3 separate regions of the Homo sapiens genome follow, and regions 2 and 3 are each linked to region 1. The links come from fine-mapping of genetic effects on gene expression. A gene starts in region 1. Each other region holds a variant in brackets. All regions are shown on one strand. Distances are from middle to middle.

Region 1 (8,180 bases):
AATGCCAGGTAGTAGTAAGCATTATGAAGAAAAATAGAGCAGGGAAAGGGGCTAGAAAGTGATGGAAGAGTTCAATTTGAGATGGGGTGGTTTCAGACAGGATGGTCTGAGGGAAACATCTAGCAGACCTAATGACAATTTGCTAACTGGTTCCATGTGCACACATTATTCATCTGCACCCCAAGGGAATTTCACGTGTAAGCTCCCTAGCTTGCTAGAAGGCTTGACTCAGGATGAAGAGAGCCCTGCTATTCAAAGTGAATGTTCATGATTAGTTCATATGATTTCAGTTCCACCAATTCATAATGACACAACATCACAAGTGAAGTCAACATGATGGACCCACATGCCTCAAGGATGCATTCCTCAGACAGGGAGTTGAGGCAGTAGCAACTGCAGGGGTCCACATCTTCAACTCTGCCCTAGACTACCAATCCCACCCCCTCTCTCCACCCACCTCAGTGAGCTCCCTCCTTGTCAGATGCTCTGATGACTCTGCCCCATGGGATACACTAGAAAGCTAAGTGGGAAAGGAGATTGGATCTTTGAAGGAGGATCTTCTACTCACTACTGAGAAGCGTTGCAGAGCCAGGGGAAATGGAGCTGACCCTGTTGCTGTAAGTTTCTGACAATTTCTCCAGTACTTTCTTTGGACCTGCTTCGAGCAACAGGATTTTCTTGTCATGAAAGTGAATATCATATCCTTAAAAAAAGAAAATTTATATCATCTTAGGAAAATCAAGAATTTCCTTTCCCATTACCAAGAGAAACAACAGAGTAACCACTTAACCCTTAGAATATGAATTTCTTACAGAGAACATAAACACTATACCCATGCAGAGTCCTAAGCAATAACATATACCACCATTTTAGCTATGAGAACCACCCTGCCCACAACTGTAAGACTTCTCCAAAGACCACTACATGCCACGTGCCAAGAAGCAAATAATGGCAAACACCTAACTAGCAAACAGAATGCCCTAGAAAGGAAAAATGAAGTAAAAAAGTTAGACTACAGTATTTAAACACCAGTTCTTTTCAATCTCCAGAGTATTAAGTCACTAAAAATTACAACTCCTGTTCAAAAGAAAAAGTGGAATAAACAAGCAAAATTCAATGCAGTCTCAAGATTAAACCAAGAATAAAGAATTAGAGTTTATAAAGGCCGGTGCGGTGGCTCACACCTGTAATCCCAGCACTTTGAAGGCCGAGGTGGACAGATCACCTGAGGTCAGGAGTTCAAGACCAGCCTAGCCAACATGGTGAAACCCGTCTCTACTAAAAATACAAAAAAATTAGCCAGGTGTGATGGCGGGCACCTGTAATCCCAGCTACTTGGGAGGCTGAGGCAGGAGAATCGCTTGATCCTGGGAGGAGGAGATTGCACCACTGCACTCCAGCCAGGGCAACAAGAGCAAAATTCTGTCTCAAAAAGAAAGAATTAGAGTTTATAAAAGAAAACGTGAGCCAGGCATGGTGGCTAACGCCTGTAATCTCAGCATTTTGGGAGGCCGAGGTGGGAGGATTGCTCAAGCCTAGGAATTCAAGACCAGCCTGGGCAACATGGCGAGACCCTGTCTCTACAAAAAAAAATTTTTTTTAACTAGCCAGGCATGGTGGCACACCTGAGCTATGTTTGTGCAACTGCAGTCCTACCTGGGGGACAGAGCAAAACCCTGTCTCAAAAACTACAAAAAAGAAAAGAAAAGAAAGAAAGGTCAGGCACAGTGGGTCACACCTATAATCCCAGCACTTTGGGAGACTGAGGTGATGGATCAGTTGAGCTCAGGAGTTCAAGACCAGCGTGGGCAACATGGTGAAACCCCATCTCTACTAAAAACACAAAAATTAGCCAGGTGTGATGGCGGGCGCCTGTGGTCCCAGCTCCTCAGAAGGCTGAGGCAGGAGAATCACTGGAACCTGGGAGGCAGAGGTTGCAGTGAGCTGGGATCCTGCCACTGCACTCCAGCCTGGGTGACAGAGCAGAGACTCTGTCTCAAAAAAAAAAAAAAAAAAAAAAAAAGTTAGCTCCAGCCATACAGACAGTGAGCGGTCCATCTTGGCAGCTTTTGCTGTGGAGGATGGGGCACAGGGACATGCTCTGTAGAGCATGCTCTGTAAAGGGCACTATCTTCTTTTTTTTTTTTTTTTTTTTTTGAGATATCGAGTTTCGCTCTTGTTGCCCAGGCTGGAGTGCAGTGGCGCGATCTCAGCTCACTGCAACCTCCCCCTTCCAGTTTCAAGCGATTCTCCTGCCTCAGCCTCCCAAGCAGCCATGAGAACCACCCTGTTACAGAAGTCTATGATCTGCTTTAAGTTAAATTTTGTGTATCTTGTGAGATGAGGATCATAGGGTGGAACAGCTGCCCTTAGATCAGGGTGTCCAATCTTTTGGCTTCCCCAGGCCACAGTGGAAGAATTGTCTTGGGTCACATATAAAAAAACACTAATATTAATGATAGCTGATGAGCTAAAAAAAAAAAAAAAATCACAAAAAAAAAATCTCATAATGGGCCAAGCATGGTGATTCATGCCTGTAATCCCAGCACTTTGGGAGGAAGGGGCAGGTGGATCACGAGATCAGGAGTTCGAGACCAGCCTGGCCAATATGGTGAAACCCCGTCTCTACTAAAAATACAAAAATTAGCCAGGCATGGTGGCACAAGCCTGTAATCCCAGAGGTTGCAGTGAGCTGAGATCGTGCCATTGTACTCCATCCTGGGCAACAAGAGCGAAACTCCATCTCAGGGAAAAAAAAAAAAGTGAAAAGACTACAAAATGGAAGAAAATATTTGCAAGTCATTTATCAGATAAGGGACTTATACAGAATAAACAAAATAATGGCCAGGCAGGGTTGCTTATGCCGGTAATCCCAGCACTTTGGGAGGCTGAGGCAGGTGGATTGCTTGAGCCCAGAAGTTCCAGACCAGCCTGGGCAACATAGTGAGACCTCGTCTCTACAAAAAAATACAAAAATCAGCCGAGTGGTGGCGCATTCCTGCAGTCCCAGCTATTTGGGAGGCAGAGGCAGGAGGATCAATTCAGCCAGGGAGGTTGAGGCTACAGTGAGCCGTGATCGTGCCACTGCACTGCAGCCTGGGCACAGCGGAAGACCCTGTCTCAAAAAATAAAAATAACTCTTACCACAGTATTCAAGAGACAAACTGCTCAATTAAAAACCGGGCAAAGGGTCTGAATAGGCATTTCTCTAAAGAAGATATACAAATGACCAATAAACATATGAAAGGATATTCAACATCATTAATCATTAGGGAAATACAAGTCAAAACCTGGAGATCCCACTTTACTTACACCCACTAGAATGTCTATAAACAAAAAGACAATGACAAGTACTGTCCAGGATCTGGAGAAACTGGAACTCTCATTTATAAATAACCCCGGGAAGGCCTGTTTTCCCATGAGTAGAACAGACTCTGAACGCCCCTCCCACTTTTGACCCTAATGGACCCTGAAGGACCACACGCATTCCGGCGTGCCCTGGGGTTCCTCTAGGAGGGGAGGGGAGAAGCGTCGCGAGACCTGAGAAATTGTCTTTGGGCAAGTCGTGCTAGGGCTCTCACGGCTCTCATCGTGCCTCCGCGGCCCGGTTTCCGGCCACTAGTAGCCTGGAGAAGGGCTTACCCAAGGCACAGGCCATGGCAGCGCCCACCAGGCCTCCACCCGACACCACCACGTCATACACGGTGTCTGTTGAGGCGCCGGACCACCTGCGCCAGGACACCAGCGGGCCGCTGTGGGGAGCTGCACGCACAGCCCCGCATCGGCTGACAAGCCGGGCCGCCATGGTGCAGACCTGCGCCGTCGCACTCAGAACTCCCGCAGGCCCACCTACGTAGTGCGTCCGGAGCAGAGCACTCCAATCCCGTCCCGCTTCCGCGGCGTCCTCAGAACCGGAAATAAAATGCGCGGAGAAAATAGGCCAATCGGAAAACGAACCTTGCCTCCTCGGGCGGGATGGATCGGAGGCTGCCCTGGAAGCCAACCAGACGCCAAAGCTAGAAAGGGGTGGACCCTGGCCCCGCATAGCTCTCGCTGCCACCGCTGCTGCCACTATCGCTGTCACTGTCGCTGCTGCCTCTGTCCAGCTGAAATGACCGTGGGGAGGCCTGAGGGAGCCCCCGGAGGCGCGGAGGGGAGCCGTCAGGTGAGGAGAGAAAAGAGACTGCCCCCGGGAAAGGAATCCCGGAGAGGAAACTGTTGGGCGTTGCCTTGGAGACAGACAGCAGGGGCGTGTCACGGAGGGGCGTGGGATTAAAATGAGCGTTTAGGGACCAGGAGGCGGACTCTGACTTACAGACCTGAACCTCTCGGACTTTATACGAGGCTCTTGATAGGCAATGTCACTCAGTTTTCGCTTATCCTCTTAGTACTCTATGACCAGTAGTACAATTGTCGTCTCATTTTTGTAGAAGAGAAAACTGAGGCACAAAGAGATTAAGAAAATTGCTCCCCAAATTTGGCCGGGCGTGGTGGTTCACGCCTGTAATCCTAGCACTTTGGGAGGCCGAGGCGGGTGGATCACCTGAGGTCAGGAGTTCGAGACCAGCCTGGCCAACATGGTGAAACTCCGTCTAAAAATTTAAAAAAAAAAAAAAAATTGGCCAGGCGCGCTGGCTCACGCCTGTAATCCCAGCACTTTGGGAGGCCAAGGAAAGCGGATCATGAGGTCAAGAGATCGAGACCAGGCTGGTTTCCATGGCAAAACCCCGTCTCTACTAAAAATACAAAAATTGGCCGGGTGCGGTGGCTTACTCCTGTAATGCAGCACTTTGGGACCTGAGGTCAGGAGTTCAAGACCAGCCTGACCAACATGGAGAAACCCTGTCTCTACTAAAAAAAATACAAAATTAGCTGGACGTGGTGGCACATGCCTGTAATCCCAGCTACTCGGGAGGCTGAGGCAAGAGAATTGCTTGAACCTGGGAGGTGGAGGTTGCAGTGAGCCGAGATTGTGCCATTGCACTCCAGCCTGGGCAACAAGAGCAAAACTCTCTCAAAAACAAAAACAAACAAACAAAAAAATACAAAAAATTATCTGGGCATGGTGGTGCGCGCCTGTAGTCCTAGCTACTCGGGAGGCTGAGGCAGGAGAATCACTTGAACCCGGGAGGTGGAGGTTGCAGTGAGCCAAGATTGCACCACTGCACTCTAGCCTGGCGACAGAGCGAGACTCCGTCTCAAAAAAAAAAAAAAATTAGCCAGGTGTGGTGGCGCGTGCCTCCAGTGATCCACCAGCCAAGGCCTCCCAAAGTGCTGGGATTACAGGCGTGAGCCAGTGCACCTGGTGGACCCCAAACTATTAAAGGCAAAAAGTAGATTGGCAGTTGCTTAGGGCTGGTGGGGTGGGGTGTGGAGGGTTAGGGGAAATAGGGAGTGACCACTAAAGCGTGTGGCATTTCTTTTAAGGGCGATGAAGGTGTTCTAAAATTGTGATGGTAGTTGCACAACTCTGTGTATATACTAAAACCACTGAATTGTACACTTTAAATGAGTGAATATATTGTATAGAAATTATGTCTTAATAAAGTTGTCTTTAAAAGAAAAGAAAAAACGTGCCCAAGATCACACACTGTAGCAGAGCCAGGGCTAGGGTGCATACATATCTCTGACTCTTACCCTGGATTTTAGTAAGCCTGGCTCCTCATCAATCAAGTGTCAATTCAAAATTCCTCCACAATGAAAAATAAAAATCAGCCCAGGACTGAGAAAGTATAACTCAGACTGTCATAGGCATAGATAATGCCAACGGCAAGAGCATCAGGAAACAGTGTTTCTCTCAGGGCCATAACATAGGTGCAAAATTACTAACACCCCTTCTTCCAAAAGGCTTACTGATCAATTACTTACCCACCCTACTTTATTCTTCTCACCTTTTGAATAAGTATTGCCGTTGGGCGGGGCCCAATGGCTCACGCCTGTAATCCCAGCACTTTGGGAGGCCAAGGCAGGCGGATCATTTGAGCTCAGGAGTTGGAGACCAGCCTGGGAAGCATGGTGAAACCCCATCTGTACAAAAAATACAAAAACTAGCCAGGTGTGATGGTGTGTGCTGTAGTCCCAGCTACTCGGGAGGCTGAGGTGGGAGGATCATCACCTGAGCTCAGGAGGTTCAGGCTGCAGTGAGGCATGATTGCACCACTGCACTCCAGAACCTGGGTGACAGAGCAAGAACCTGTCTCAAAAAAAAAAAATTGCTCAGTCATTCGCTTAACTAAATTGTCCCCACTTCATGACAGCACCATTCCAGAGTTGATACCTGGTTCCCTGAATCAATCAGGGAAGCCAACCCTATAAAAATCACACCCTCAACCCTAAGTTCCCTGTGGTTTTCCGTAGTGTCCTGCAGCAAGTTAATAAGCCTAACTGATGTACTGATTACAAGTACATTCCTAATAACCTTAATCTGATGGACTTTATCAACCAAAAAGCTTTCCATAGGCACTCCATCTTTTTATAACCTCACAGTTGTTTATGGTTTTCACAGAATTTATCATCATCTTATATTGTCTGTCTCCTCTTACTACAGTGTAAGCTTCATGAGAGTAAGGACCTTGTTTGTCTTGTTCTCAGCCAAATGCCCAGTGCACATCAGGCACCCAGTAAATATTTTATGAATGAATGGAGTACTGAAAAAGTTAATTGTGTGTCCCACTTCTTAAGACATTGCTCTTCCAGCCAGACCATACTGTCTGTCTTGTTAATCATCCATTCCTTTTTTTTTTTTTTTTTTTGAGACGGAGCATCACTCTTGTTGCCCAGGCTGGAGTGCAGTGGCGCAATCTCATCTCACTGCCACCTCCGCCTCCCGGGTTCAAGCGATTCTCCTGCCTCAGCCTCCCCAGTAGCTGAGATTACAGGCACCCGCCACCACGCCCAACTAATTTTTGTATTTTTGTAGAGACGGGATTTCACCATGTTGGTCAAGCTGGTCTTGAACTCCTGACCTCAGGTGATCCACCTCCCTCGGCCTCCCAAAATGCTGGGATTACAGGCATGAGCCACTGCACCCAGCCATCATCCATTCCTTGACAGAGTGCAAATTAGCTAGAACATGAGGAAAGCAGAGGAGTAGAAATAAGGGAAGGGAGAGAAGGAAGATGAGCAAGAAGTAGGTTAAAACCCAAGTAAGGGAGAGTGTGGCCATCATCATGGGCAGGATTCCTGGAGTGCAGGGGTCAGAAAGCCTGGTGTAGGTGAGGTACTCTGTAAAAGCTTACTGCACTGTATGGCATAGGGAACCAACTTCAGCTCTTCACTTCCCTCTCCATCCCTTCAACCAAGCGCACTTCATAGACCAAGTTGTGAAATTTCTTTAGACCAAGAAACACACCTTATTTTTAAAAATTCCTCCCAAAGTGTTGGGATTACAGGTGTGAGCCAGTGCATCTGGCAGACCCCAAATTCTCCCCAGTCCCTAATATACAGAAGCTTATTCAAAGCGAAATTAAGTTATGATTTGAATACCTTTGAAATTATTGTTTGACCCACAGCCTATTTCTATTCTATTTTAGATATTTCCCCCCGAGTCCTTCGCAGACACAGAGGCAGGAGAGGAGCTGTCCGGGGATGGGCTGGTTTTGCCCAGGGCCAGCAAACTTGACGAGTTCCTCAGCCCAGAGGAGGAGATAGATTCTACTTCTGACTCAACTGGGAGCATTTACCAGAACTTACAGGAACTGAAGCAGAAAGGGAGATGGTGTCTGTTGGAGTCTCTCTTTCAGTCTGACCCAGAGAGTGATGAAAACCTCTCTGAAGATGAGGAGGACCTGGAGAGTTTCTTCCAAGACAAGGACAGGGGGATGGTGCAGGTCCAGTGCCCGCAGGCTCTGAGGTAAGGCACTGCAGCTCCACGGCTGCCTCACTCCACACCTCCACACAGGTCACATCGTGTCTCTGGGCTTCATCTTCCTCTGTAAAGCAAAGAGCACTTCTGCAAGTTGCCATTTACTGAGGCTCTAGCTGAGAATCAGCTTTTGGTTCCAAACAGGTGTTCTGATTCCTCCCCAGGAATCCTGAATTACTTTGGGCAACACTTAGTCCAGTGATGCACTGGAATTAATTAAAGGGCAGCCTTTCCTCAGGTGCAGGGGCTCACACCTGTAATTCCAGCACTTTGGGAGGCTGAGGCAGGCGGATCACTTGAGGTCAGGAATTCGAGA
Region 2 (8,180 bases), 53 kb before region 1:
AAGGCAAGAGGATCATTTGAGCTCAGGAGGTGAAGGTTGCAGTGAGCTGTGTCTGCACCACTGCACTTGAGCCTAGGTGATAAAGCAAGACATCTTCTCATTTAAAAAAAAAAAAAAAAGGGCCGGGTGTGGTGGCTCACACCTGTAATATCAGCACTTTGGGAGGCCGAGGCGGGCGGATCACGAGGTCAGGAGATCGAGACCATCCTGGCTAACACAGTGAAACCCCGTCTCTGCTAAAAATACAAAAAATTAGCCGGGCGTGGCGGCGGGCACCTGTAGTCCCAGCTACTCGGGAGGCTGAGGCAGGAGAATGGTGTGAACCCGGGAAGCGGAGCTTGCAGTGAGCCGAGATTGTGCCACTGCACTCCTGCCTGGGCAGCAGAGCGAGACTCCGTCTCAAAAAAAAAAAAAAAAAGGCTTGGCGAGGTGGCTAATGCCTGTAATCCCAGCACTTTGGGAGTCCAAGGTAGGTGGATCACCTGAGATGATCACCAGCCTGACTAACATGGAGAAACCCCGCTTTGTCTCTACTAAAAATACAAAATTTGCTGGGCTTGGTGGTGTATGCCTGTAATCCCAGCTACTTTGGAGGCTGAGGCAGGAGAATCTCTTGAACCTGGGAGGCAGAGGTTGTGGTGAGCCAAGATCATGCCATTGCACTCCAGCCTGGGGAACAAGAGTAAAACTCCATCTCAAAAAAAACAAAAAGGTATTTAAATTTCTTTTCACCTTTAGAAACAAGAAGTACATTGTGTGAGTTGTAGTTTTTCTGACTTTAATTCTTTTCCTTAAGTAAAATATTAGGACTATAACAGAAGATGGAAGTTAAAAGTCAAGTCAGCATTGTTGTTCATTTTGTTTGTTTATTTGTTTTGTTTTTTATTTATTTTTTTGAAATGGAGTCCTGCTCTGTCTCCCAGGCTGGAGTGCAGTGGCATGATCTCAGCTTACCGCAACCTCTGCCTCCTGGGTTCTAGCGATCCTCCTACCTCAGCCTCCCAAGTAGCTGGGATTACAGGCGTGCACCACACACCCAGCTAATTTTTGTATTTTTAGTAGAGATGGGGATTCACCATGTTGGCCAGACTGGTCTTGAACTCCTGACCTCAGGTGATCCACTCCCCTCAGCCTCCCGAAGTGCTGGGATTACAGGCGTGAGCCACCGCACCTGGCCAGTTGTTCATTTTTAAGAGTTAATAGCAGCCGATGTGATGGCTCACACCTGTAATCCTAGCATGTTGAGAGGCCAAGGTGGAGGATTGCTTGAGGCCAGGAGTTTGAGAGCAATCTGACAAACATAGTGAAACCCTGCCTATATTTCTTTTCTTTTTTTTTGAGACCGAGTCTTGCTCTCTCACCCAGGCAGGCATGAGCCACCACGCCTGGTTTATTTCTTTTTTTCTTTTTTTCTTTTTTTCTTTTTTTTTTTTTTTTGAGACTGAGTCTCACCCTATCGCCCAGGCTGGAGTGCAATGGTGCGATCTCAGCTCACTGCAACCTCCATCTCCCGGGTTCAAGCAATTCTCCTGCCTCAGCCTCCCGAGTAGCTGGGATTACAGGCATGTCCCATCATGCCCAGCTAACCTGGCTTATTTCTATATATTATTTTTTTCTAAGAATAAACAAATGAACAAAAACAGTTAATATCATTGGAATAACATGCAGGTCCTAAAATAAGAAGTATGTAAGATGTGTTTATTGAAATATATATATGGTATACTGGAAAAAAAACCCCACAAAATATTACACAAATACTGGTTACAGCTTACAGTAGCCAGCCTCCAAGATGCCCCCCAGTGATGCTCACCTCCTAATATTCATGCCTTTGTGTAGTCCCCTTTTACAGTTCGTCAGGGTTGGTCTGTATGAGCATTAGAATATAGGGATATGATAGTGTATGACTTCCAAAACAAAGTCATAAAAGACATTACTGCTTCTGCCCTGCTCTTCTTGGATTGACTGCTCTGGAGGAAGCCAGCCACTGGGTTATAAAGACATTCAAGCAGCCCTATGGAGGATCTACACGGGGAGCTACTGAGACTTCCTGCCCACAGCTGGCATCAACTTGCCAACCATTGAGTGAGCCATCTTGGAGGTGGGTCTTCCAGGCCTAGTCAAGCCTTCAGATTGACTGCAGCCCCAGCCTACATCTTGACTGCAATCTCATGAGAGCCTCAGAGCCAAAACTGTCTAATTAAACCACTCTCAGAGTCCCAAACCACAGAAATAATGAGATAGGCCGGGCGCAATGGCTCACACCTGTAATCTCAGCACTTTGGGAGGCCAACGCAGGTGGATCACCTGAGGTCAGGAGTTTGAGCCTGGCCAATATGGCGAAACCCCGTCTCTACTAGAAATACAAAAATTAGCCGGGTGTGGTGGGGGGTGCCTGTAGTCCCAGCTACTTCGGAGGCTGTGACAGGAGAATCACTTGAACCCAGGAGGCAGAGGTTGCAGTGAGCCAAGATCACGCCACTGCACTGCAACCTGGGCAATAGAGGGAGACTCTGTCTCAAAAAAATAAAAAAGGGATGAGATAATAAATATTTTTATTGCTTAATACATGTATTTATTTACTTAATTAATTTATTTTTTGAGACAGGGTCTTGCTCTGTCACCCATGCTGGAGTGCAGTGGCATGATTCTAGCTCACTGCAGCTTCGAACTCCTGGGCTTAAGTGATCCTTCTGCCTCAGCCTCCCAAGTAGCTGGGACTGCAAGTGTGCACTGCCATGCCTGGCTAATTTTTTCATTAAAAAAAAATTTTTTTTAATAGGGTTTTGCTGTGTTGCCCAGGCTGGTCTCAAACTCCTGGGCTCCAGTGATCCTCCTGCCTTAGCCTCCCAAGTGTTGGGATTTACAGGCATGAGGCACCATGCCCAGCCAATTTTTTTTTTCTTTTTTTCTTTTTCTTTTTTTTTGATTCTTCAGCTAAGACAGCAGAAGAGATGATTTATCGTATGGTTGTTATACTCGGCCACAAGTAAACACAGAAATAGTCCAGAATGTCCCAGGTCCAGGGCAGAGGACCAACATGGGCAGTTTTGGTTATGAGCAAGGTGGGTCTCAGAGGTGATCAGCGATCAGAGGGCGGTGAAGTTCTGGATCCATTGAGACAAGCTCTACACAATAGCATGCAGTCCCACAACTTGTACCAGCATCCCCAGCATCTGGCATTCCATGTTTCTGCTCCTGTGTGGCCTCCACGGTGCAACAAGCTAGCGGTTTACTTGGACCTCTGCCTCATCTTTCTTCTTTTGTGCTTCAGACTGCACATTCGCTTTTTCCTCCACTTAGCTCTCATGATGCAGAGGTTTCCAAGAAAATGGCGCTAAGGCTGAGAGAAACCCTAGCCCATTTCTATTGTCAGTTTTTATTGAATTCCACCTTGGACGCTCTTCTAGGTTCTTGGGTTACACCAGTAAACAAAAAGATTTCTGCTCTTGAGGAGCTTATATTCTATCAGAGGAACACAGACAATAAATATCAGTAAGCTTTCCAGTATGTTAGAATGTGATAAGTGGTGTGGAAAAAAGAAAAGTGGATCAGAGTAAGGGGAGTTGAGAAAGCAGGTAGAGGTGGGAGCATGTGAAGGTGAGAGGTTATAGTATTAAGTAGATCTCAATAAGAAAGTGATTTTTAAACAAGTATTTGAAGGAGTTGCAGGAATTCATCAAGTGGATATATAGGAAAAGAATTTCTAGGCAGTGGGGACAGCTTAGAGCGAAGGCCCTAAGGCAGGGGCATGAGTGAATAAGCGCAGAGGTCAGTGTTGGGGGAGAGTAAGGTGAAAACTATTAGTAGATGGGGTCAGAGATGTAGTGGGGATGGAAGCAGAAGGCTATTTTCAGGACCTTGTTTCTCTGAAATGGGGAGCCAGTGCTGGATTTTGCATAAAACAGAGACATACTCTAATTTATATTAAAGGATGACTTTGGTTGTTTGTTAAAAGGAGACAAACTCCAGGGGAGTGAGGATAAAAGCAGGAAGATCTGTTAGGACAATATTAGCAAATCACATGAAAGATGATAGTGGCTTGGGCGAAGGTGGTAGCAATGGAAGTGGTCAGAAATGGTCGGATTCTGGAAATGTATTCAACAGCAGGAAATTAAGATCTTCAAAATCTCTTGATTAGCTGGGCACAGTGGCTCAACCCTGTTATCCCAGCTATTCAGGAGGCTGAGGCTAGAGGATTGCATGAGGCCAGGAGTTCAAGACCAGCCTGGGTAACATAGTGAGACTCCATCTCTACATAAATAAATAAATAAGCTCTTGATTTTATGTAAGAAGGTCAGACTGCTGTAAGACTTTCACATCCTGATGGAAGTCTCACTTTCCAGCCTCATCTCAGACCATTCTCTGCTCTACACTCGCCTCCCCACTCCCATATCTGTCTTTTCCAAGAGCCCTGTTAGATAATCCTTCTTGGGTGGCCTACTAGTTAAGACTGTGGCTCTGGAATTAAACCATCTGGGTTTGATTTCTGGCTCATTTCATTTAACTACGATGTGGTCTTAAGATACTTAGTTTCTCTAAGCTCAGTTTTCTCATTTATAAAATGGGAATCTTAATAATAGCACCTAACTCACAGAGCAGTAATGTGAGATTAAATGAGCTAATCTATGTAGAATACTTAACATCATGCTTGGCATCTACTAAGATCTCCGTAAATATTGGTTACTATTTTTTTAAAATCTCAGATTATGTTTCTTTGACCACAATCTTTATCCTCTGCATTAAATGCTAACCCTCTTCTTCTATATCCTCTTTCACTAGTTTTCTACTTTTT[G/A]TTTCTCAAATTCATATAAAAAATTCTTGAGGACATTGGCTTTTAATTATTATTATTTGAGACAGGGTCTCACTCTGTCGCATAGGCTGGAGTACAGTGGTGCCGTGCAATCACAGTTCACCTCAGCCTCCACTTCTCAGGCTCAAATGATCCTCATACCTCAGCCTCCTGAATAGTTGAGACTACAGGTGTGTACCACCATGCCTGGCTTTTTTTTTTTTTTTTTTTTTTTTTTTTTTTTTTTGAGATGAGGTCTTGCTCTCTCGCCAGGCTGGAGTGTAGTGGCATGATCTCGGCTCACTGCAACCTCCGCCTCCCAGGTTCAAGCGATTCTCCTGCCTCAGCCTCCCGAGTAGCTCGGACTACAGGTGCCCGCCACCATGCCTGGCTAATTTTTTTCTTTTTTTTTGGGATGGAGTCTTGCTCTGTTGCCCAGGCTGGAGTGCAGTGGTGCAATCTCGGCTCACTGCAAGCTCGGCCTCCCAGGTTCACGTCATTCTCCTGCCTAACCCTCCCGAGTAGCTGGGACTATAGGCACCCGCCATCACACCCAGCTAATTTTTTGTATTTTTAGTAGAGACGGGATTTCACCGTGTTAACCAGGATGGTCTCGATCTCTTGACCTCGTGATCCGCTTGCCTTGGCCTCCCAAAGTGCTGGGATTACAGGCATGAGCCACTGCGCCCAGACACACCCTGCTAATTTTTTAATATTTTGTAGAGATAGCATTTCACTATGTTGCCCAGGCTAGTCTCAAACTCTTGGGGTCAAGCAATCCTCCCACTTTGGCCTCCCAAAGTGCTAGGATTACAGGCATGAGTCATCATACCTGGCCTCGCTATTTTTAATTTTTATACGGATAGGGTCTCACTGTGTTGTCCAAGCTGGACTTGCACTCCTTGGCTGAAGTGACCCTCTTTCCTCAGCCTCCTGAGTACCTGGGACTATGGTCACGTGCCACTCCATATGGCTCTTGAGGAAATTTTTAAATGAAATCAAACGATACTTTTCCTATCATCTTTTTCTAATCTCTCTGGTCTTTATACACATCTGGTCTCTATTATTTCTGTAGTTATTTCTGTCCATTTTTCATGATTGCTTACATGTCATTTCATTTTTTTTGTTGTTGTTTTGAGACAGGTTCTTGCTCTGTTGCCCAGGCTGGAGTGCAGTGGCATGATCTCGGCTCCCTGCAGCCTCGCCTCCCAGGTTCAAGCAATTCTCCCACCTCAGCCTCCTGAGTAGCTGGGATTACAGGCACACCACCACGCCTGGACAATTTTTGTATTTTTAGTAGAGATGGGGTTTCACCATATTGGCCAGGCTGGTCCTGAACTCTTGACCTCAGGTGATCCACCCTCCTCGGCCTCCCAAAGTGTTGGGATTACAGGCGTGAGCCACTGTGCCCAGCCATTTCTTTTATATATGCTTATATATATATTTTTTAAATTGAGACGGGGTTCAGTCTTGTCACCCAGGCTGGAGTACAGTGGTGCGATCTCAACTCACAGCAACCTCCACCTCCCAGGGGGCTCAAGCAATCCTCCCACCTCAGCCTCCCAAATAGCTGGGACTACAGGTGCATTCCACCATGCCTGACTAGTTTTTGTATTTTTGGTGGAGATGAGGTTTCATCATGTTGCCCAGGCTGGTCTCGAACTCCTGAGCTCAAGCAATCTGCCTGCCTTGGCCTCCCAAAGTGCTAGGATTACAGACGTGAGCCACTGTGCCTGGTCTCAAATGTCTTTTCTTGATGCGTTTCCAAATCCTCTAGGGAGTTAGTCCTGTGTTTTTGTTCCTTTACCTTTTTTTTTTTTTTTTTTGAGATGGAGTCTCGCTCTGTCGCCCAGGCTGGAGTGCAGTGACGCGACCTCGGCTAACTGCAACCTCCGCCCCCTGGGTTCAAGTGATTCTCCTGCCTCAGACCCCTGAATAGCTGGGATTACAGGTGCATGCCACCATGCCTGGCTAATTTTTAAATTTTTGGTAGAGATGGGGTTTCATCATGTTGGTCAGGCTGGTCTGGAACTCCTGACCTCATGATCCGCCCGCCTTGGCCTCCCCAAGTGCTGGGATTACAGGTGTAAGCTACTGCGCCCGGCCCTTTACCTTTTTTTTTGAGACGGAGTCTCGCCCTGTTGCCCAGTCTAGAGTGCAGTGGCTTGATCTTGGCTCACTGCAACCTCCGCCTGCCAGGTTCAAGCAATTCTCCTGCCTCACCCTCCTGAGTAGCTGGGATTACAGGCACGCGCCACTGCGCCTGGCTAATTTTTGTATATTTAGTAGAGACGGTTTTACCATGTTGGTCAGTCTGGTCTCAAACTCCTGACCTCATGATCCGCCCACCTTGGCCTCCCAAAGTGCTGGGATTACAGGAGTGAGCCACCGTGCCCGGCCTACCTTTGTTTTTTTTGGGGGGGTGGGGGGCAGAGTCTTACTCTGTCACCCAGGCTGGGGTGCAATCCTGTGATCTTGGCTCACTGCAACCTCTGCGTCCTGAGTTCAAGCAATTCTCGTTCCTCAGTCTCCTGAGTAGTTGGGATTACAGGCGCATGCCACCACACCTGGCTAATTTTTGTATTTTTAGTAGATATGGGGTTTCACCACGTTGGCCAGGCTGGTCACGAACTCCTAACTTGAGGTAATCCACCCACTTTGGCCTCCCAAAGTGCTGGGATTACAGGCGTGAGCTACTGCGCCTAGCTTCTTTACCATTTTTATGCTTAGTTTAAAAAGTTACGGTTATTTTTATATATGTCTGCCACCTCTGCCAGACTCAGCATCTTGAATAAAAAGATCTGTTTTCCTCACCTTTACTTTTCTGGCACCTAGCAGTTAGTAGGCATCAGTAAGCATTAGTAGAATTAAGCAATTGAGTGGTCCTGACAAGGCTCCTGACTGCAGTCCTTACATGTAACTACCAGATTCGTATTTGGATACTCCCTAGTTCAATATCTTCAGTGGCTTCCTATCACCTGCAGAGTAAAGTCCAAACTCCTTAGCTGAGTATTTGGTGTCCTCTACTATGTGACCTCAATCTATCTCTTCAACTTTATTTTCTACTATAGTTGGTCAAACTGATCCATTCACTGTTCCTCAGGGGCCCCCATCCCTTTTCCACATCCGTGTCTTGATTCATGGTTTTATTCCTGAAAAGCACTCCTTGCCTGTCCTAATTCATTTCCCTCCTCAGGACCCTCCTCAGATACGACCTTTTTCACAGAGCCTTCTCCATCATCCCAGCTTTGAAGTTTCAGAGCATAGTAACTGTGCTGCTTGACACATTTTCACTTTATAGAGGTAATTTATGGACATGTATTTTTTTTTTCCAACTTAGTATAGTTTCTTAGGGTTTCTTAAAGTTTCTAAGATGATTTATCTTTGTGTG
Region 3 (8,180 bases), 130 kb after region 1:
GAGACAAAGTCTTGCTCTGTCACCCAGGCTGGAGTGCAATGGTGTGATCTCGGCTCACTGCAACCTCTGCCTCCTGGGTTCAAGCGATTCTTCTGCCTCAGCCTCCTGAGTAGCTGGAATTACAGGTGCCTGCCGCCATGCCCAGCTAATTTTTTGTATTTTTAGTAGAGTTTAGTAGAGTTTAGGGGTTTCACTCTGTTGGCCAGGCTGGTCTTGAACTCCTGACCTTGTGATCTGCCCGCCTCAGCCTCCTAAAGTGCTGGGATTACAGGCGTGAATCACCGCTCCCAACCTGTCTCTACTTAAAAATACAAAAATTAGTTGAGCGTGGTGGTGCAAGCCTGTAATCCCAGCTACTTGGGAGGCTGAGGCAGGAGAATCGCTTGAACCTGGGAGGTGGACGTCGCAGTGAGCCGAGATTGTGCCACTGCATCCTAGCCTGGGCAACAGAGCAAGACTCTGTTTCAAAAAAAAAAAAAAAAAGATATATTGAAGTTTTAACCCCTTAACCCAGTACCTCAGAGTCTGACCTCATTTGGAAATAGGTCATTGCAGATGTAATGAGGTAAGGTTAGGTTACACTGGAGTAGGATGGACCCCTAATCCAACATGACTGGTGTCATAAGAAGATGGCCATGTGAAGACAGAGACCCACAGGGAGAACAGGACGCGGGGAGCCTGGACTGCTTCTGCAGCAAGCCAAGGCAAACTACCAGCAGCTAGGAAGAGGCAAGGGAGGGTTCCGTGACCTCTATCAGAGGAAACGCGACCTTGCCAACACCCTGATTTTGGACCTGTAGCCTCTAGAACTGCGAGACAATGAATTTCTGTTGTTTTACGCCACCCAGTTTGTTGTATTTTGTTATGGCAGCCCAGGAAAACTAACACAGCGTCCCAAAGCTGAGGCGCTATCAGCTTGCACACAAAAGAAGTTTGTAGTCTTTACTTGAAGGGTTGTTTCCATTAAGAACAACAACAACAACAAAAATACCTTTAAATTCCCTGGGATTCCAATGCTGTTCCCGAGAGTGCTGGTTTCCTGATGGAGTCTGGTGCTGGCTCTAGGACCTCTTACTCTGGTGAAATGGACTCAGCTTCCTTGAGAAGCACCTGGAAATGTCATTTTCAGGTCCTATGTGAGACTCAATTAATGGATAAATTGGGCTTCTTTTTTCCAGGGCTTTGTTTTTTTTTTTTACTTTTTTTTTAGAGACGGAGTCTCGCTCTGTCTCCCAGGCAGGAGTACAGTGGCACGATCTCGGCTCACTGCAACCTCTGTCTGCCGGGTTCAAGCAATTATCCTGCCTCAGCCTCCCGAGTAGCTGGGATTACCGGCGCATGCTGCCACGTTTGGTTAGTTTTTTGTATTTTAGTAGAAACGGGGTTTCACCGTGTTGCTCAGGCTGGTCTCAAACTCCTGAGTTTAGTTAATCTGCCCACCTCGGCCTCCCAAAGTGCCGGGATTACAGGCGTGAGCCATCATGCCCAGCCTGTTTTTTTTACTTTTTTAAGAAATAAATTATTATTATTTTTTTGGGGGGGGCGGGTAGCTGGGCGCCGTGGCTCATGCCTGTAATCCCAGCACTGTGAGAGGCCAAGGCTGGTGGATCACTTGAGGTCAAGAGTTCGAGACCATCCTGGCCAACATGGCGAAACCCCGTCTCTACTAAAAACATAAAAATTAGCCAGGCATGGTGGCAGGTGCCTGTAATCCCAGCTACTCTGGAGGCTGAGGCAGGAGAATCACTTGAACCCGGGAGACGGAGGTTGCAGTGAGCTGAGATCACGCCACTGCACTCCAACCTGGGTGACACAAGGAAACTCAGTCTCAGAAAAAAAAAAAAAAAGAAAGAAAGAATTTTATTTTTTTAAATAGAAATAGAGACAGGGTCTCAATATGTTGCCCAGGCTCGTTTTGAACTCTTGGGCTCAAGCAATCCTTCTGTCTCAGCCTCCCAAAGCCTCCCAAAGTGTTGGGATTACAGGCATGAACCACTGCACCCAGTATATATATATATACATACATACATATACACACACACACACACACACACACATATATATATATACACATATACATATATATATACACATATATATATATTTTGGAGATAAGGTTTCAGTCTGTCCACCCAGGCTTAGGTATAGTGGGGTGATTACAGCTCATTGCAGTGTCAAACTTGTGGACTCGAGTGATCCTCCCACCTCAGCCTCTCGAGTAGCTGGCTGGGACTACAAATGTGCACCACCACACCCAGCTAATTTTTTAATTTTTTTATAGAGATGGGTCTCAATTTTTTGCCCAGGCTGGTCTTAAGCTCCTGGCCTCAAGCAATCCTCCTGTTAAGGGAGATAACAGACATGAGCCACTGCACCCAGCCCTTTTTTCTAGTTTTTAAAAGACACTGAAGAACTTACACTTCCATATATGTGATAGTCTTTCTCTTTCTTTCATTTATTCATTCAACAAACTTTACAGCACACCTACTGTGTGTCAATGGTGGATGGTCTCTGCCCTCACGGAGTCTGCAGCCTGGGGCGCCTTCTCATTACTGCACCTGTGCTGCTGCCGCCTCTATGCCTTTCTAGGCCTCCTCACTGAATAATGTCTGCCTAACTCATAGCATGTTCCCGGTGGTTACAACCTCCACCTTTGCAGGCGAATATGAGTTTTTGGACCATCCAGAGTCCTTCTGAACCATGTCTGAGGAATAAAATGTATGATTAAGCAGGAAAAAAAAAGATTAAGTCCTGATTTTTTCCTCTAAAAACCTCAGGAAAAAAAACCCAAAATATTTTAGTGGCAGTATCAACGGGATACATTTATAGCTCATAAGATGATGCTGTAGAAGAACAATGTTATTCAGATATAAAAAATGACTTATTACGTCATGGTCATAGAAGGAGAACCTTTTAAGTCAAGCCCAGGGTTCTCAAGAGGCAGCCTTTCTCTCATGTTTTTTTTTCTTTGTGTTATTCTTTCCTCTAGATAGAGGCGCGGGGTGAAGGGAGCGGTATCTTTCATCTCTTCTTTCTTTCTCTTGAGTACACAGATGGTGACTGGTGCATGGCTCAAACCTTTCATAGCTGCCAGGGCTTTCCAGACTCTTGATTGCCCTCATTATTTTTCCTGCCTTGTCCAGGGTTCTCCTTCCAAGGTCATCTTCTGGTTGTGATGTAAGCCTCATCACAGCTCCCATAACACATCACAAGACACATACACTACAGACACTCACAAAGCTGAACTGCAAGAGAAAACAGAAAGCAAGCTGGGCTTTCCATTCACATAGGAAAGCGTCTCAAGATGCCTGGGAAAGTGACTCCAGGGCTTCTGACCCAGTGAACTGAACCTACTTTCCTTCTTTTCTTTTCTTTTCTCTCTCTCTCTCTCTCTCTCTCCCTTCCTCCCTCCCTCTCTCTCTCTCTTTTTCTTTTCTTGAGACAGGGTCTCGCTCTGCCACCCAGGCTGGAGTGCAGTGGTGCAATCATAATTCACTGCAGTCTTTAACTCCTGGGCTCAAGCAATCCTCCCACTTCGGCCTCCCCAAGTGTTGGGATAACAGGCATGAACTGCCATACCCGGTCATTACTATTTCTTGACGCAAGTGTTGGTTACACAGAGAGCTGCTTTGTAATTATTTGTTAAATTGTCCAAATATGTTCTGTGCATTTTTTCTTTTCTTTTCTTTCCTTTCTTTCTTTCTTTTCCTTTCCTTCTCTTTCCTTCTCCTTCCTTCGCCTTCCTTCCTTCTTTCCTTCCTTCCTTCCTTTCCTTTCTTTCTTTCTTTTCTTCTTTTTCTTTTTTGAGACAGGGTCTTGCCCTATTGCCTAGGCAGGAGTGCAGTGGCACAACCACGACTCACTGCAGCTTCAACCTCCCAGACTCAAGCCATCCTCCCACCTCAGCCTCCCAAGTTTCTGGGACTACAGGCACATGCCACCACACCCGGCT[A/G]ATTTTTTATTTTTTGTAGAGACAAGGTCTCGCCATGTGGCCCAGGCTGTTCTCAAACTCCTGGGCTCAAGTGATTCTCCCATGCCAGCTTCTGCAAGTGCTGGGGTTACAAGTGTGAGCCACAATGCCCAGCCTGAGCCTAGTTGCTAAGTCTAGAATATTCCTTCCTGGTGTGTGGACATAGCAAAGGTTAAATTCAGTGTTCCATAAGGCAATTGTATATCTGATGAGCACAATTTGTTATATCAGAAGACCACCATCTCTGCAAATCAGGAGGCTTTATTCACTCATTCATTCATTCATTTATTCACCAGATATGTATGAAGTGACAGACACTTTAATAGGCAATAGGAAATCTGAAGCTGGAAACACAGTCTGTGCCCTTGAGGGGTTCATGGCAGGGAGACAGATCTAAATAGAATCTGGTGTGATATGGCCTGAAGGTAGCCATGACTTCTTCGTCCACCCTTCTTCCTCTTTTTTTTTTTTTTTTTTTGATTGAGTCGGAGTCTTGCTCTGTTGCCCAGGCTGGAGTGTAATGGCACGATCTCGGCCCACTGCACCCTCTGCCTCCTGGGTTCAAGCAATTCTCCTGCCTCAGCCTCCCAAGTAGCTGGGATTACAGGCGCCCGCCACCATGCTCAGCTAATTTTTATATTTTTAGTAGAGACCGGGTTTCACCATGTTGGCCAGGGTGGTCTCGAACTCCTGACCTCGTGATCCGCCTGCCTCGGCCTCCCAAAGTGCTGGGATTACAGGCATGAGCCACTGCACCTGGCATGGTTTTTTTTTTTTTTGAGATGGAGTCTTGCTCTGTCGCCCAGGCTGGAGTGCGGTGGCAGGATCTTGGCTCACTGCAACCTCTGCCTCACAGGTTCAAGTGATTCTCCTGCCTCAGCCTCCCGGGTAGCTGAAACTACAGGCCTGTGCCACTATGCCCAGCTAATTTTTGTATTTTTAGTAGAGACAGGGTTTCATCATGTTAGCTAGGCTGGTCTCGAACTCTTGACCTCAAGTGATCCACTTACCTTGGCCTCCCAAAGCGCTAGGATTACAGGCGTGAGCCACCACACTCAGCCTTCAACCACACTTCTAAGCCCTGTAGATCCAGCCCAGCATCCAAATTACCCGCTCCAAAGGCATGAGCAGGAAAAGGAGGGGCAGACATCACACATCACCAACAAAACTTCCCAATCATCGCCTTTTAAAAACATCTCTGCTTCCTTCCCCAAAGTGCCCTCTCCCATTGCAGTTGCTGCACCTCAGCTCTCATCTCATCCCATCCCAAAAACTAAGATCTTAGCTTTTTCTCCCCTCCTCACATCACCCCTCCACTTGTAACCTGGTTTAGTGAAACAAGACTTGGCCCCAAGCATCTCTCAAGATTGCCTCTAAGGGGCCTCAATTCAAAGTGGTTTGGTGTTGCTGCACTATGACGTGAAAGCCCAGGGGAAGCCTGGAGTCAGAGGAAGGGCGATTCTCAGAAGCCAGACTAATTTTTGTAGTGGCTGCACCTACCCTTGATTTACTGAATCAGAATCTAAACCAAATTCCGTCTCTTTTTCTCTCTCTCTTTTTCTACGTGTTGAAAAAGTTGACTGGTCTGTTCTGCAGGACAAAGTTTCTCACAGTCTGAATGTTGCTGATCACAATATTGCTGTATTTCGTAGTAGTTAGATTTTGAGGTTAAAGTGGGTTCACGTGTGATTATTTTGGCCACACTACTTTTAGGGTTGCCAGGCTTAGTAAATAAAAATACAAGATGCCCAGTTAAGTTTTAATTTCAGATAATGAGCTTTTTTTTTTTTTTTTAATAGAGTCTTGCTGTATTGCCCAGGCAGGAGTGCAGTGGCGATCTCGGCTCACCGCAACCTCTGCCTCCCAGGCTCAAGCGATCCTCCCACCTCAGCCTCCCAGGAAGCTGGGACCACAGGTGCGCACCACCTCGCCCGGCTACTTTTTTAATTTTTTGTAAAGGTGAGGTCTTGGTATGTTGCCCAGGCTGGTCTTGAACTCCTGGGCTCAAGCAATCTGCCTGCCTCGACCTCCCAAAATGCTGGGATTATAGGTGTGAGTCACCGCGCCCGGTCCCTGAACTTTTTTTTTGGGGGGGTGGGGGCAGACAAAGTCTCACCCTGTTGCCCAGGCTGGAGTGCAGTGGCGTGATCTCAGCTCACTGCAACCTCCAAGTCCCTGGTTCAAGCGATTCTCCTGCCTCAGCCTCCTGAGTAGCTGGGATTACAGGCACGTGCCACTACACCCAGCTAATTTTTATATTTTTAGTAGAGACGGGGTTTCACCATGTTGGCCAGGATGGTCTCGATCTCCTGACCTCGTGATCCGCCCACCTCGGCCTCCCAAAGTGCTAGGATTACAGGTGTGTGCCACCATGCCCAGCCTGGTCCTTGAACATTTTTCAGCATATGTATGTCTCATGGAACGTTTGGGATATATTTATACTAAAATTTATTTGATATTTATTTGAAATCCAAATTTAACTAAACATTGTGTGTTTTATCTGGAAACCCAAACTACTTCACAAGATGTATTGTGTCCATTCGTCAGGAGCTGAATATCTGGCTCTCGCTCTTTTTGCGATGTTAGAAGCTGTTGATGATCATGGCCTAGACTGATTATTTCCCTAGAGGCTGTAAAATGATGATATTCTAATTCTATCTTTTTTCTTCATTTCTTAGCTGGAATATGTCTATAAAGAGGAACTTTTCCTTGTCAACTATTTGGATTCCTTGGTTATTTTCATACAGAGAAAGCAGGCTACATGCTTAACTCTGTCCTTTTCTTTACCAGTTTTCAGAATAATTAATTGGTTCCTTAGAACTTGCCAAAAGTGACCAATGGGTTGTGTTCTTGACTTTAAAAGTATCATTATGATCTCAGATTTTTTTCGTTTTTTTTTTTTTTGAGACGGGGTCTCACTCTGTAGCCCAGGCTGGAGTGCAGTGGTGCGATCTCGGCTCACTGCAACCTCTGCCTCCCGGGTTCACACCATTCTGTAGTCCCAAGTAGCTGGGACTACAGGTGCCCGCCACCATGCCCGGCTAATTTTTGTATTTTTAGTAGAGACAGGGTTTCACCATGTTAGCCAGGATGGTCTCGATCTCCTGACCTGGTGATCTGCCTGCCTCAGCCTCCCAAAGTGCTGGGATTACAGGTGTGAGCCACCACGCCAGGCCGAACTCAGGTATTTTGACATGTATATATTTTGACCCATTGCAGTTGTTATTCTTTCAGACACTCAAATTGTTCCATATTTGGCCAATGAGAGTCTCTTGAACTTGGCTATTGGGTCCTTTTGATGCCACCCCAACGGTCTTTGTTAGGTTCTTTGCTTTCTGGTGTAACAAGATGTTCCAGAATCATCTTAAGCATTTCTTAGCTCTGGCATGGAATTAGACATTTCTCTTAGGAACTCTTTTAGTAGGAAATGATATTTAGAGATCAAACATTTCCTACTCCCCAATTTAAAATTACAACCCCCTGCAACAAACACATAGACCTATGTTCCCTGAGATCCCCTTACCTGATCTACTTTTTTCCATGCGGTTATCACCTTCTAACATATGAATTTAATTATGTTTATTGCTTGTCTCTCAGCATGAGACTGTAAGCTTCTCAAGAGCAGAGACTTGTTCACTGTCTGATACATAGCACAATAGCAGACACTCAATAAATACCCCTTTAATGAGACAATGACTATATATCACCAAATTACTTTTTTTTTTTTTTTTGAGACAGCGCCTTGTTCTGTTGCCCAGGCTGGGGTGCAGTGGTGCGATCTTGGCTCACTGCAACCTCCGCCTCCTGGATTCACGTGATTCTCATGCCTCAGCCTCCCGAGTAGCTAGGACTGCCACCATGCCCCGCAAATTTTTGTATTTTTAGTAGAGACAGGGTTTCGCCATGTTGGCCAGGCTGGTCTCGAACTCCTGACTTCAAGTGATCTGCCCGCCTCGGCCTCCCAAAGTGCTGGGATGACAGGCATGAGCCGCTGCACCTGGCCCCAAATTACATTTTTGAAGTGTTCATTCTCACTTCTGGTGGAGAATGTATTTGGGAGGGACTGTTGTGAAGCAGGGAGGCCACTAAAGAGGCTTTTTCAGTTGTCCAGGGGAAAAATGAGGGTGGCTTAGACTAAGAATGTGTCTGCGGAAATGTAAAGAAAAGTGAGGTAGAGACAAGAGGTATTTAATATAACTGACTAAACATG

Direction of the effects. Positions count from the first base shown, and alleles are read on the strand shown. Sizes are in standard deviations (SD) of each study's normalised expression.
For the expression in sigmoid colon of the gene that starts at base 3,836 in region 1, allele G in region 2 goes with a higher level than allele A (small effect, 0.23 SD a copy in GTEx).
In carriers of allele G in region 3, the expression in aorta of the gene that starts at base 3,836 in region 1 tends to be lower than with A alone (small effect, 0.29 SD a copy in GTEx).

What was found. PIP is the estimated chance that this variant, and not a neighbour inherited with it, causes the effect.
Region 2: its variant is fine-mapped to the expression of COQ6 in sigmoid colon (GTEx, PIP above 0.99).
Region 3: its variant is fine-mapped to the expression of COQ6 in aorta (GTEx, PIP 0.94).

What each region holds. Positions count from the first base shown.
Region 1 is chr14:73,945,958-73,954,137 of GRCh38, reverse strand. It overlaps COQ6 (coenzyme Q6, monooxygenase), which reads right to left and starts at 3,836. Exons shown (of 12, transcript NM_182476.3): 1 at 3,643-3,836; 2 at 569-703. The coding sequence starts at 3,805. It overlaps FAM161B (FAM161 centrosomal protein B), which reads left to right and starts at 4,044. Exons shown (of 9, transcript NM_152445.3): 1 at 4,044-4,165; 2 at 7,533-7,852. The coding sequence starts at 4,112. RefSeq lists a silencer at 1,786-2,084 and enhancers at 4,078-4,137, 3,154-4,154.
Region 2 is chr14:73,998,523-74,006,702 of GRCh38, reverse strand. All of the region lies in intron 3 of ENTPD5 (ectonucleoside triphosphate diphosphohydrolase 5 (inactive)), which reads left to right. It also overlaps the pseudogene RPL41P4. Among named protein-coding and RNA genes, the nearest start is that of ENTPD5, 17 kb to the left of the region's middle. The variant G/A (reference allele first, on the strand shown) is at 4,793.
Region 3 is chr14:73,811,581-73,819,760 of GRCh38, reverse strand. No RefSeq gene overlaps it. Among named protein-coding and RNA genes, the nearest start is that of LINC02274, 14 kb to the left of the region's middle. The variant A/G (reference allele first, on the strand shown) is at 3,953.